Linked DNA regions of Homo sapiens. The protein of the gene in region 1 purifies or fractionates together with the protein of each later gene. This does not show direct contact. Each region holds a gene or a part of one and is shown on either strand. Other genes may lie near its edges.

What was found. Proteins that work in one complex are often made in the same cells at the same time.
Region 2: the proteins of SOAT1 (region 1) and SLC25A3 purify together in Homo sapiens (affinity purification with mass spectrometry, with the first as the bait; one large-scale study listed by BioGRID). This does not show direct contact.

Annotation. Positions count from the first base shown.
Region 1 is NC_000001.11:179,344,566-179,350,134, reverse strand, and holds part of SOAT1 (sterol O-acyltransferase 1), read right to left. Parts: intron 5,189-5,569; coding exon 5,059-5,188; intron 2,536-5,058; coding exon 2,438-2,535; intron 1,292-2,437; coding exon 1,193-1,291; intron 1-1,192.
Region 2 is NC_000012.12:98,599,152-98,603,685, forward strand, and holds part of SLC25A3 (solute carrier family 25 member 3 isoform b precursor), read left to right. Parts: intron 1-483; exon of another isoform or gene 484-733; intron 734-803; coding exon 804-976; intron 977-2,019; coding exon 2,020-2,130; intron 2,131-2,216; coding exon 2,217-2,377; 3' UTR 2,378-4,534. UniProt on the Homo sapiens protein: Inorganic ion transporter that transports phosphate or copper ions across the mitochondrial inner membrane into the matrix compartment. Mediates proton-coupled symport of phosphate ions necessary for mitochondrial oxidative phosphorylation of ADP to ATP.

The DNA.
Region 1 (5,569 bases):
ATCATATACACTTACAAACTCTTATTATTGTTCAAATATCTGAGTCTATTTTCAAAAATATCAATAACTTATGTTTGTAAGTTATTACAACTGACAAAACATAGTTTTCCTATATAAATGAAACATATTGAATTTCAGTCTTTAGAGTAACACTGTATGGTAGATGGGGCAACTGTCCTCTCCATTTTTACACATAACAAAACTAAGATTTCAGAAGGAGAAAAGGGACTTGCCTTATCCGTATGTGAAACTACACTTGAATGACAGAATTAGCACTCAAATATTAATACAATGCTATTTCCACCATAAGATGCTGTCACTAAGCCAAATGGTGCCCTCACTTAATAAAAACTGTAATCTAGATACCTGTTTATCAACCAGGAGATTCAAGATTACATCTCATCAGTCTAAGTATATTCTGCTCTAAAGAATGTCTCAAAGCCAGGTGTCACTGATTGGAGAGATACAAAATCCACACAAAAGTGTTTCTCACAGAAAAGTGTTTCTCACCCGGGCACGGTGGCTCATGCTTGTAATCCCAGCACTTTGGGAGGCTGAGGCGGGCGGATCACCTAAGGTCGGGAGTTCAAGATGAGCCTGACCAACATGGAGAAACACCATCTCTACTAAAAATAGAAAATTAGCTGGGCGTGGTGGTGCATGCCTGTAATCCCAGCTACTTGGGAGGCTGAGGCAGGAGAATCGCTTGAACCCGGGAGGAGGAGGTTGCAGTGAGCCGACAACATGCCACTGCACTCCAGCCTGGGCAACAAGAGCGAAACTCTCTCAAAAAAAAAAAAAAAAAGTGTTTCTCTACCTTTAACCATGAAAAACGAATGAAAAAGACCAAAGGGAGATTATTTGTTGGCAACAAGACTCATAAGAAACTATCCATTATTGGTGGATCATTTCAACTCCAACAACCTCCATGCATTCTTACTTTGTTATGTAAGATAAAATTCAGAGCAAAAGACACAGTATTAGACCTACTAGTGTACACACAGTGGTTTCTAAGCAGTACCATTCAAAGCAGGTTTCTAGATGTAAATTTCTCAAAAGAAAACTGAAAAGATACTATCACCCTTTCCTCATGAGCAATTAAATATAACTTCTTCCAGCTGTATAATACTCATACTTTCTGAAAAAGAATCTCCATTTCATAAATAATATCAACTTAAACCTTGCTACTTACCCAGAGAAAGTCCTTGTAAGCATAGTAATATAGCCAGTCATGGACCACCACATTCCAGGTTCTATAATAGTTGGAGTATGACGTGGAGTTCCACCAATCCTGAGGGAAAAAGTAAAGGTATAAAACTACACACACACACACACACACACACACACACACACACACACACACACACACACACATCCCACCCGAAAGCAAACCCCCCTGACTTCCCAAAGAACATATGTAACAGAAAAATCAAATTATACTGTGATAAACTGTTGGTTCATACACTGGTGACAGAAAAATCTTCAAAGGCATTTTGGTTATTAGTGTTGAATATGACATGAATTCTCATACTATATATGATTTAGTTCCTAGGTTCATACGGAACACATAGAATCATTTAAATCTAATGTTCATCTAAACAGCAATCAGTAAGCCCCACCCCCCTTACCCTACTAGAATGTCATGAGAAAATTCTATGGTCATGAAGACCAGAGAGAGTGCTAACACTAGAGAGCTGTTTGGTGGTTACCATAAATGGCAAAATTATCCAGGGTGAGATGGTGGCTACCTCAAAGTCCTGGTATCCCTATATATGCTTCTTGCTCCCAATATTAAGATCAGATGAATGAAATCAGGTATCTAAAATCTGCAATCCACACTTAAAGTTTCTTTGAGAAAAAAGGTGGTAGACTTGGAGTGTTGCCAAAAACAACTCAAAGAGAGCTTTAGGTAGGGTTAAAGAATGCTATGAGCCATTCTGACTCTAATTCTATAGCTTAATTCCAACTTTAGAAGCATAAGGATACTATCTGAAGCAAAATTAACACCTTTCAAAACTAAAGAGGGAAAAGTTATTTCCCTCATGAACTGCTCAATTGTCTTAAATGGAATAATTTGCTGAGGTCATTCCTACAGAACTAGACGGTCCATTTCAAATGAATGAACACTCAGGGAAGTCTCATGGTGTGCTCTGAACAAACAGTTTCCTACTGGAATCACCAATATATCCTTGCAGGATCCAGCAGAAACCATGTGCTTATGTTAAGGGAGCAGATATTAGAGACAGAAGAAAACACAAGGTTATGCTAGTTATATCTGTAACCGAATTTCAGAAAATACTGGCAAAACTTGTAGAAAAGAAAATTATTTCACAATGTTTGTGTGAAAGGCTGGTGACATTAGCCAACAATGTCAAAATACTAATAATGAAGAAGTTAATAAAATGTAAAAAGAAAGCTAAGTCTAAGTATATACTACCTTATAGAACATCCTGTCACCAAAGCGTAACATCTCAGCAAAGGCATTGAGCCAGCAGTGCAAAAAGGCAAAAAAAGTAAGGAAGAGAATCAGCACACCTAAAAATAAGATTAACAATATTAACAGTCTTTCCAAATAGCTCACATACCAAGCAACTAATTATATCACATCATTTTATTTAGCTGGGATTATTTTGTAAAATATAAGTTATTATTCCAGTTTACCCATTCCAGAGATGATATACTTTTGGAGTTAATTATCTTAATTTTAAAACAGTAACTTCCTTCAAAGTGGGTTCAACAAATGACATTACCCAGTCTGGTTTTTTTTTTTCTTTTTTGAGACAGAGTCCTGCTCTGTCACCCAGGCTGGAGTGCAGTGGCGCGATCTCGGCTCACTGCAACCTCTGCCTCCAGGGTTCAAGCAATTCTCCTGCCTCAGCCTCCCAAGTAGCTGGAACTACAGGCATGTACCACCACATCTGGCTAATTTTTTGTATTTTTAGTAGAGACCGGGTTTCACCATGTTGGCCAGGCAGGTCTCAATCTCCTGACCTTGTGATCTGCCCACCTCAGCCTCCCGAAGTGCTAGGATTACAGGCGTGAGCCATCGCGCCCAGCCTACCCAGTCTGTTTTTAAGAAATGCCTAAATATATGGCTTAACTTAGTACCCAAGGTCCTTTAAAAATCTGGCCCCCATACCCCCCTCTTAAACAATTGTTTAAAACTGGGAGAGATTTTGCCCCCTCTCCCCCACAGGACATTTGAAATTCTAGAGACTTTTTGTTTTTAAAAGACAGGGTTTCACTATGTTGCCCAGGCTGAACTTCAACTCCTGGGGCTCAAGTGATCCTCCCACCTCAGCCTCCAGAATAGCTGGGACTACCGGTGCAAGCTACTGCACCAGTGCTGTGACAATTGGAGGAGAGGGAGTGGTGCCACTGGTATCTAGTTGTTAGAGGCCAGGATGCTGCTGAACAGTTTATGCTACAATGCAGAAGAATGCCACTCCAAACAAAGAATTAACCAGTCCAAAATGTTAATAGTGACATGGTTAACATAGTGACATGGATAACATTCTAAACATATCTCCAGTGATTCTACCCTCTAAGTGTTGTAAACATTATCCACAACTGGGTTTATGCCATTCCAGAATGCTCCATGCCCTTGCATCCATCCCACTACCTAGAATGACCTTTCCACCAATTCTCTGCCAGGCAAATACCTACCTATTTTTCAATACCCAATATTAAATGTTATCTCTAATGTGAAACAAAGGCCATAAGCATTTTGTTTATCCTACTTATGTAGTACATATTACAATATATTGTAAAATATCCATTTATATGTCCATCTCTTTCACTCATTTATTGAAAAATATATATTTATAGAGCATCAACTATGTACCAGACAATATGAGAGAGACTGTGATTGGCTATAAAACACAATCCTTGAACTCAATAACTTTGCAGCTAGTGAGGAAGACACTCAAGTATGTAACACATATTCTATTTTAGGGACAGATACAGAGTTCATTCAAATAAGTCCTGGGGCTGGTGAGGGAGGGTTACTGGAAGAGGAATGCAAGAGAAGAAAAGAAAGGGAAGGTGATGACAGAAAACATTACCAACATTCAATGAGTAAAGAAAAGAGGAAAAGTAAGGGAAACTATAAAAGCTCCCAGACTGTAAAGATAATACATCTCTTGTTCACTTCTGAGTCCTCTGCACCTGGCATAGTACTAGGTACTCATATATCTCTATAATAGACAAAAAAATGCAATAAATATATTTAAGAAATCAAGGTATGGTCGGAAAGACAGGAGGAAAATAAGAAATAGTGGCAAAAGGCCAAGCATGGTGGCTCAAGCCTGTAACCCCAGCACTTTGAGAGGCTGAGACAGGAGGATAACTTGAGCCCAGGAGTTTGAGAATGGCCTGGGCAACATAGGGAGACCCCGTCTCTCCAAAAAATAAAAACTTAGCCAGGCATGGTGGCATGCACCTGTAGTCCCAGCTACTGAGGCGAGAGGATCACTCGAGCCCCAGAGGTCGAGGCTAGTAAGCCATGATGACACCACTGCATTCAGACTGGGTGACAAAGAGAGACCCGATTTCAAAAAAAAAAAAGGCAAGAAAACAGTGACAAGAGAGATTTAAAAATGTGGTCAGCAGCACCCAATGCTTCATGGAGGTCAACTTGGATAAGGGGTAAAGTACATCTTAATCCATCCACTGGATTAGAATATGGATTACTAGTAATTTCTACAAGTAATTTCTACAAGTTACTAGTAATTTCAACAAGGGGCATTTAAGTGGCTTGGTGGAATCAGGAGCAAGATTACAATGAACTTAATAGCGAACAGGAAGACACAGCATGAATGTGGACTGTCCACTGTCAGAGAAAGGCACAACTTGAGTGAAAGCCATAAGATGAAAGACTGACCTGAGACTGGATGAAGGATACTTCATTTATAAAGTAGATGCAAAAGAGGTCAAGATGGGCATAGATGTATAGAAGTTTAGATGAAAAAGTAGGCAAAGCAAAGGTGCTCATAGGCAATAGCTTTCTATTTACCTCGTGAATTTATGCATGACCAAATTAACAAGTACCCATGTTACCTGGCAAGATGGAGTTAAATACACATAGGACCAGAACACGAGCGCTGAAGGGCTCCTGTTTGATATTCCGAAACAAGGGGGCACAAAGCCTTTCAAAGATGTAGTACACATAGAAAAAGCAACCAAAGACCTGGAACATAACAGAGACAGAATTATAATAACGATGGCTTAATAAGATGGAAGGCGATTTTTTTCTCTCCAAAAGAAAGTACAGATGTGACCCTTACAGTAATGTTCGCATATGTATTCCATTTAACACTAGTATAGAAGACTGCTATAATCCTTCAGGGAGATTACTCAAGCCTAGTTTCTACCATCACTTTTCCTAACCCTTTACCAAATGATATTTTTAGAAGAGCTTACTCTTGGAACCTGTTTTCCTGCTGCTTAAAACCCGTAACATGGCCGGGCACAGTGGCTCACGCTTGTAATCCCAGCACTTTGGGAGGCTGAGGCGGGTGGATGACTTGAGGTCAGAGTTCGAGACCAGCCTGGCCAACATGGTGAAACC
Region 2 (4,534 bases), on another chromosome or scaffold:
CCCAGGTTCAAGTGATTGTCCTGCCTCAGCCTGCTGAATAGCTGGGATTACAGGCATGCACCACCACGCCTGGCTAATTTTGTATTTTTAGTAGAGACTCCATGTTGGTCAGGCTGGTCTCGAACTCCTGACCTCAGGTGATCCACCCGCCTCGGCCTCCCAAAGTGCTGGGATTACAGGCGTGAGACACCGCGTCTGGCTGTGAACTTCATTTTTTAGTATTAAGCCTACCAGACTTTTTAAAAAGACTATTATAACATTTAATGTCTATTTACCTGTATGTAGAACATAAACTTGAGAGGTAAAGATAAGTTAATACATGGTTTGAGCCCTGGACTGAGTTTTTTTTTTTTCCCTAGAGTAAGGACCATTTGTCGGTCTACAAATGACTTGATGTTTGGCCTAAACATTTACTATTAACTTTTAGGGAGGGCTTGTTAGTATCCTTGTGATCTATTCACAGTTAAGAATTTCCATGACCACAACATGCTTCCTTAGATCCACCTTTGTGGATGAATCTTGAACTGAGTTCCACTTGTAAACTTCTTGTTTCTTGTGGTTCCAGTAGTCAAAGAAACATCCAGCAACTTTTTTGGTTGTATAGTCAAAGGTGCTTGAGTCATTGGCATGTAAGAGAAATATACCTGCATGTTAGTCTAACGTTCTGATAGAAATGACATGCATTTATGCTGCCATTTGTTACTATCAGGACTCGACTCGTGTGCGGACATTTCTGTTAATAATGACAGTCTCTGATAGATGAGTGTATGCAACTGTGTAAAACAAGTCTCTTGATTTCCTAGATTCTACAAGGGGGTTGCTCCTCTCTGGATGAGACAGATACCATACACCATGATGAAGTTCGCCTGCTTTGAACGTACTGTTGAAGCACTGTACAAGTTTGTGGTTCCTAAGCCCCGCAGTGAATGTTCAAAGCCAGAGCAGCTGGTTGTAACATTTGTAGCAGGTTACATAGGTACGAATTACTTAGAACACACTTGTCTGAAATTATGAACAAATAATCATTTCCATTATTGGCGTTTTTTGAGAGGGAAAAATACTCCAAAGGTTATAAAGCAGTGTTTTTGTTTTTTTGGTTTCCCTGAGGCATAGTCTCGCTCTGTTGCCCAGGCTGGAGTGCAGTGGCATGATAATAGCTCACTGCAACCTCCTCCTCCTGGGTTCAAGTGATTCTTCTGCCGCAGCCTCCCAAGTAGCTGGGACGGGCATGCACCGCCATGCCCGGCTGATTTTTGTTTTTGTTTTTTGTTTTTTTTTGAGATGGAGTTTTACCCTTGTTGCCCAGGCTGGAGTGCAGTGGTGCAATCTTGGCTCACTGCAGCCTCCGCCTCCTGGGTTCAAGCGATTCTCCTGTCTCAGCCTCCTGAGTAGCTGGGATTGCAGGCGTCTGCCACTACGCCCGGCTAATTTTTAGTATTTTTAGTAGAGACGGTTTCACTATGTTGGCCAGGCTGGTCTCAAACTCCTGGCCCCAGGTGATCTGCCTGCCTTGGCCTCCCAAAGTGCTGGGATTACAGGCGTGAGCCACCGCGCCTGGCCTGATTTTTGTAAAGATGGGGTTTCACCATGTTGATGAGTCTGGTCTCAAACTCCTGACCTCAGGTGATGTGCCTGGCCTATAAAGCAGTTTTATCTTCCCATAACATTTTATATGCTTTTTAGGATTCATAAATACTTGCTAACTAGTTCCTAAAAGGGCTGTTTCATGGGATGTCATTATTAGGCTTGGGAATGTATTGATCTTACTGTTGCACCATTTTTTTGTTGTTGTTTATTAAGAATTTTATACAGAAAGTGTTGAATAAAATCTGAAAAACTTTAAAAGATTGTTCCGTTTTACATAGGATAGACAGCTTGATAACTGTACCCGTGTCACCCTGAGTCTGATTTTTATTTTAGAACTAGAAAAATATTATTTTAAAATCATAAAAATGATTATTGGCTCTGTGAAGTTTTGTTTTTAACTGGCACTGTATGGGATCCTTTATCTTTTTTCAGCTGGAGTCTTTTGTGCAATTGTTTCTCACCCTGCTGATTCTGTGGTATCTGTGTTGAATAAAGAAAAAGGTAGCAGTGCTTCTCTGGTCCTCAAGAGACTTGGATTTAAAGGTAGGATGATGTTTTTTTCTTGAAAGAAAGAACAACAGTTTTGGATATGTTGCATTTTTTTCATTTGCTTTTCCTGTTTGAACCAGGTGTATGGAAGGGACTGTTTGCCCGTATCATCATGATTGGTACCCTGACTGCACTACAGTGGTTTATCTATGACTCCGTGAAGGTCTACTTCAGACTTCCTCGCCCTCCTCCACCCGAGATGCCAGAGTCTCTGAAGAAGAAGCTTGGGTTAACTCAGTAGTTAGATCAAAGCAAATGTGGACTGAATCTGCTTGTTGATCAGTGTTGAAGAAAGTGCAAAAGGAACTTTTATATATTTGACAGTGTAGGAAATTGTCTATTCCTGATATAATTACTGTAGTACTCTTGCTTAAGGCAAGAGTTTCAGATTTACTGTTGAAATAAACCCAACTCTTCATGATTTGCCTGTGACTTATTTTTAAAACTTTTTTAAAAAAGATTTAGCTTTAAAATAGTTGGAAAGAATGAAGTATATAAGTTAAGGAAAAAATACAAAACTGACCATGACCATTGTTGGTTGAATATTCCAGTTGCTATTCAGAAATTGTCATATGTCTCAAGTTTTATCACACAAAGTTCCTGTATTTCTAGGGAAGCAGACTTTAAATTTCTAAAAACTTGATTTAATTATAGTTAAATATGTGTAGTCATTTGTGGTTATTTTGGCAAGTAAATGTCAGTGTATACTTACATTTTTGCAGCATGTACTACACCTTTTTTATGTTGGTGAGTTTGCTAATCCTTATTTGTAAGACAAGGTAAACCAAATTAGGCTGATTCTTAGAATGACAGTAAAGGACCAAAGTGATTGACAGCTGAAAACAATTTTCAGGTACACTAATTCTCTTTACACAGATCTGACTTTTTTTTTTTTTGAGACGGAGTTTCACTCTTGTTGCCCAGACGAGTGTAGTGTCGCGATCTCGCCTCACGGCAACCTCTGCCTCCCAGGTTCAAGCGATTGTTCTGCCTCAGCCTCCCAAGTAGCTGGGATTTCAGGCATGTGCCACCACGCCCAGCTAATTTTGTATTTTTAGTAGAGACGGGGTTTCCCTGTGTTGGTCAGGCTGGTCTCGAACTTCCAACCTCAGGTGATCCGCCCGCCTCAGCCTCCCAAACTGCTGGGATTATAGGCATGAGCCACCGTGCCCGGCTCTGACTTTTTACAGAAAATTGAACTATTTTCAGTCTGGTATTTTAAGAAAGGTACTGCTTGACAGCTGAACTATATGAATGCCACTGGGGAAAAAGCATTCCATCATACTTAGATACGAGATTGGATTGTAGGTTTAAGCCCATTTTTAAAGAGCTCCTAGAAAGTGAATTAGTTTTTGTGTTTAGATTCCCCTTAAGTTTGATTAGGAAGTGTATAAAAGTTCAATCTTTTGTAATGACAGCCCACCACTGGAAAAAAAACGAAAAACCTAGTGTAATATATAACATGCTGTTTTTCAAACACTAGATTTTACCTAGAGTCCTTATGTGTAATACGTGGGTTGGTTAACAGTCCCTACGTAAAGCGTACAGATGGCCTGGAGAGAAAAACTTTTTCAGAGATTGGAGAGAAATGTTACTACAAACTCATGGTAAGGTCAGTGAACTCAATTTAGAAGCCAGTGCAGCTAGTTGCATGTTAACTTCTTTATATCATCATTGCCTGAACTTGTTAAAGGTTCCAACATTTTACCTGTGCTGCAGGAAAAAAGGAAAAGTTGTAGGTACAAATTTGGACCAAACTTTAAAAAGGTAAAGTAGGATGTCTTCTGAACCCAACCAAGTGGTGGCTGTGGTGCTTAGCAGTATCAACTGTATATTATTTCTTGCTATGTTAGCAAAGCATCCAAAGATCAATGGTGTATGATAAGCTTTTCTGTGGGTGAAGAACTCGGGAGTATCAGACTCTTCTGGTTCTGAGTCTCATGAAGCTTTTCACTTCTGAGCTGAAAGGATGCTCTTTGTGCTTTTCACTATTAGTGGTATAGTCTTTCCCGAAAATCTCTAGCATGGTGGCTTCAGGGCAGCTGGACTTAGGTGGTATTTTGGGGCTCCAGGAGAGCTTGGCAGAGTTGGCTTTTTAGGACTTATCCTTCAATGTCACATAACATCACTTTTACCATGCTCTTGGTTACAACAGTGATGTCTCAGAAACCAAGTCCCAGATTGAGGAAAAAAGGAACATAGTCTCTACCTCTTCCTGAGAGGAAAGTCAGTCAACGTGTAAGAGGAGCAGTAGAAACGCATTAGTCCAGCCAACGTGAAAGTGGACCGTAGATCTAAAACATTTTGGGTATGCAGTTCAGCCAGCCCTTACTGAGGCAGTTCTGCCAATCAGGATTCAAGTTTTATTTCCTAAGAGTTATAATAGGTTTTATTTGTG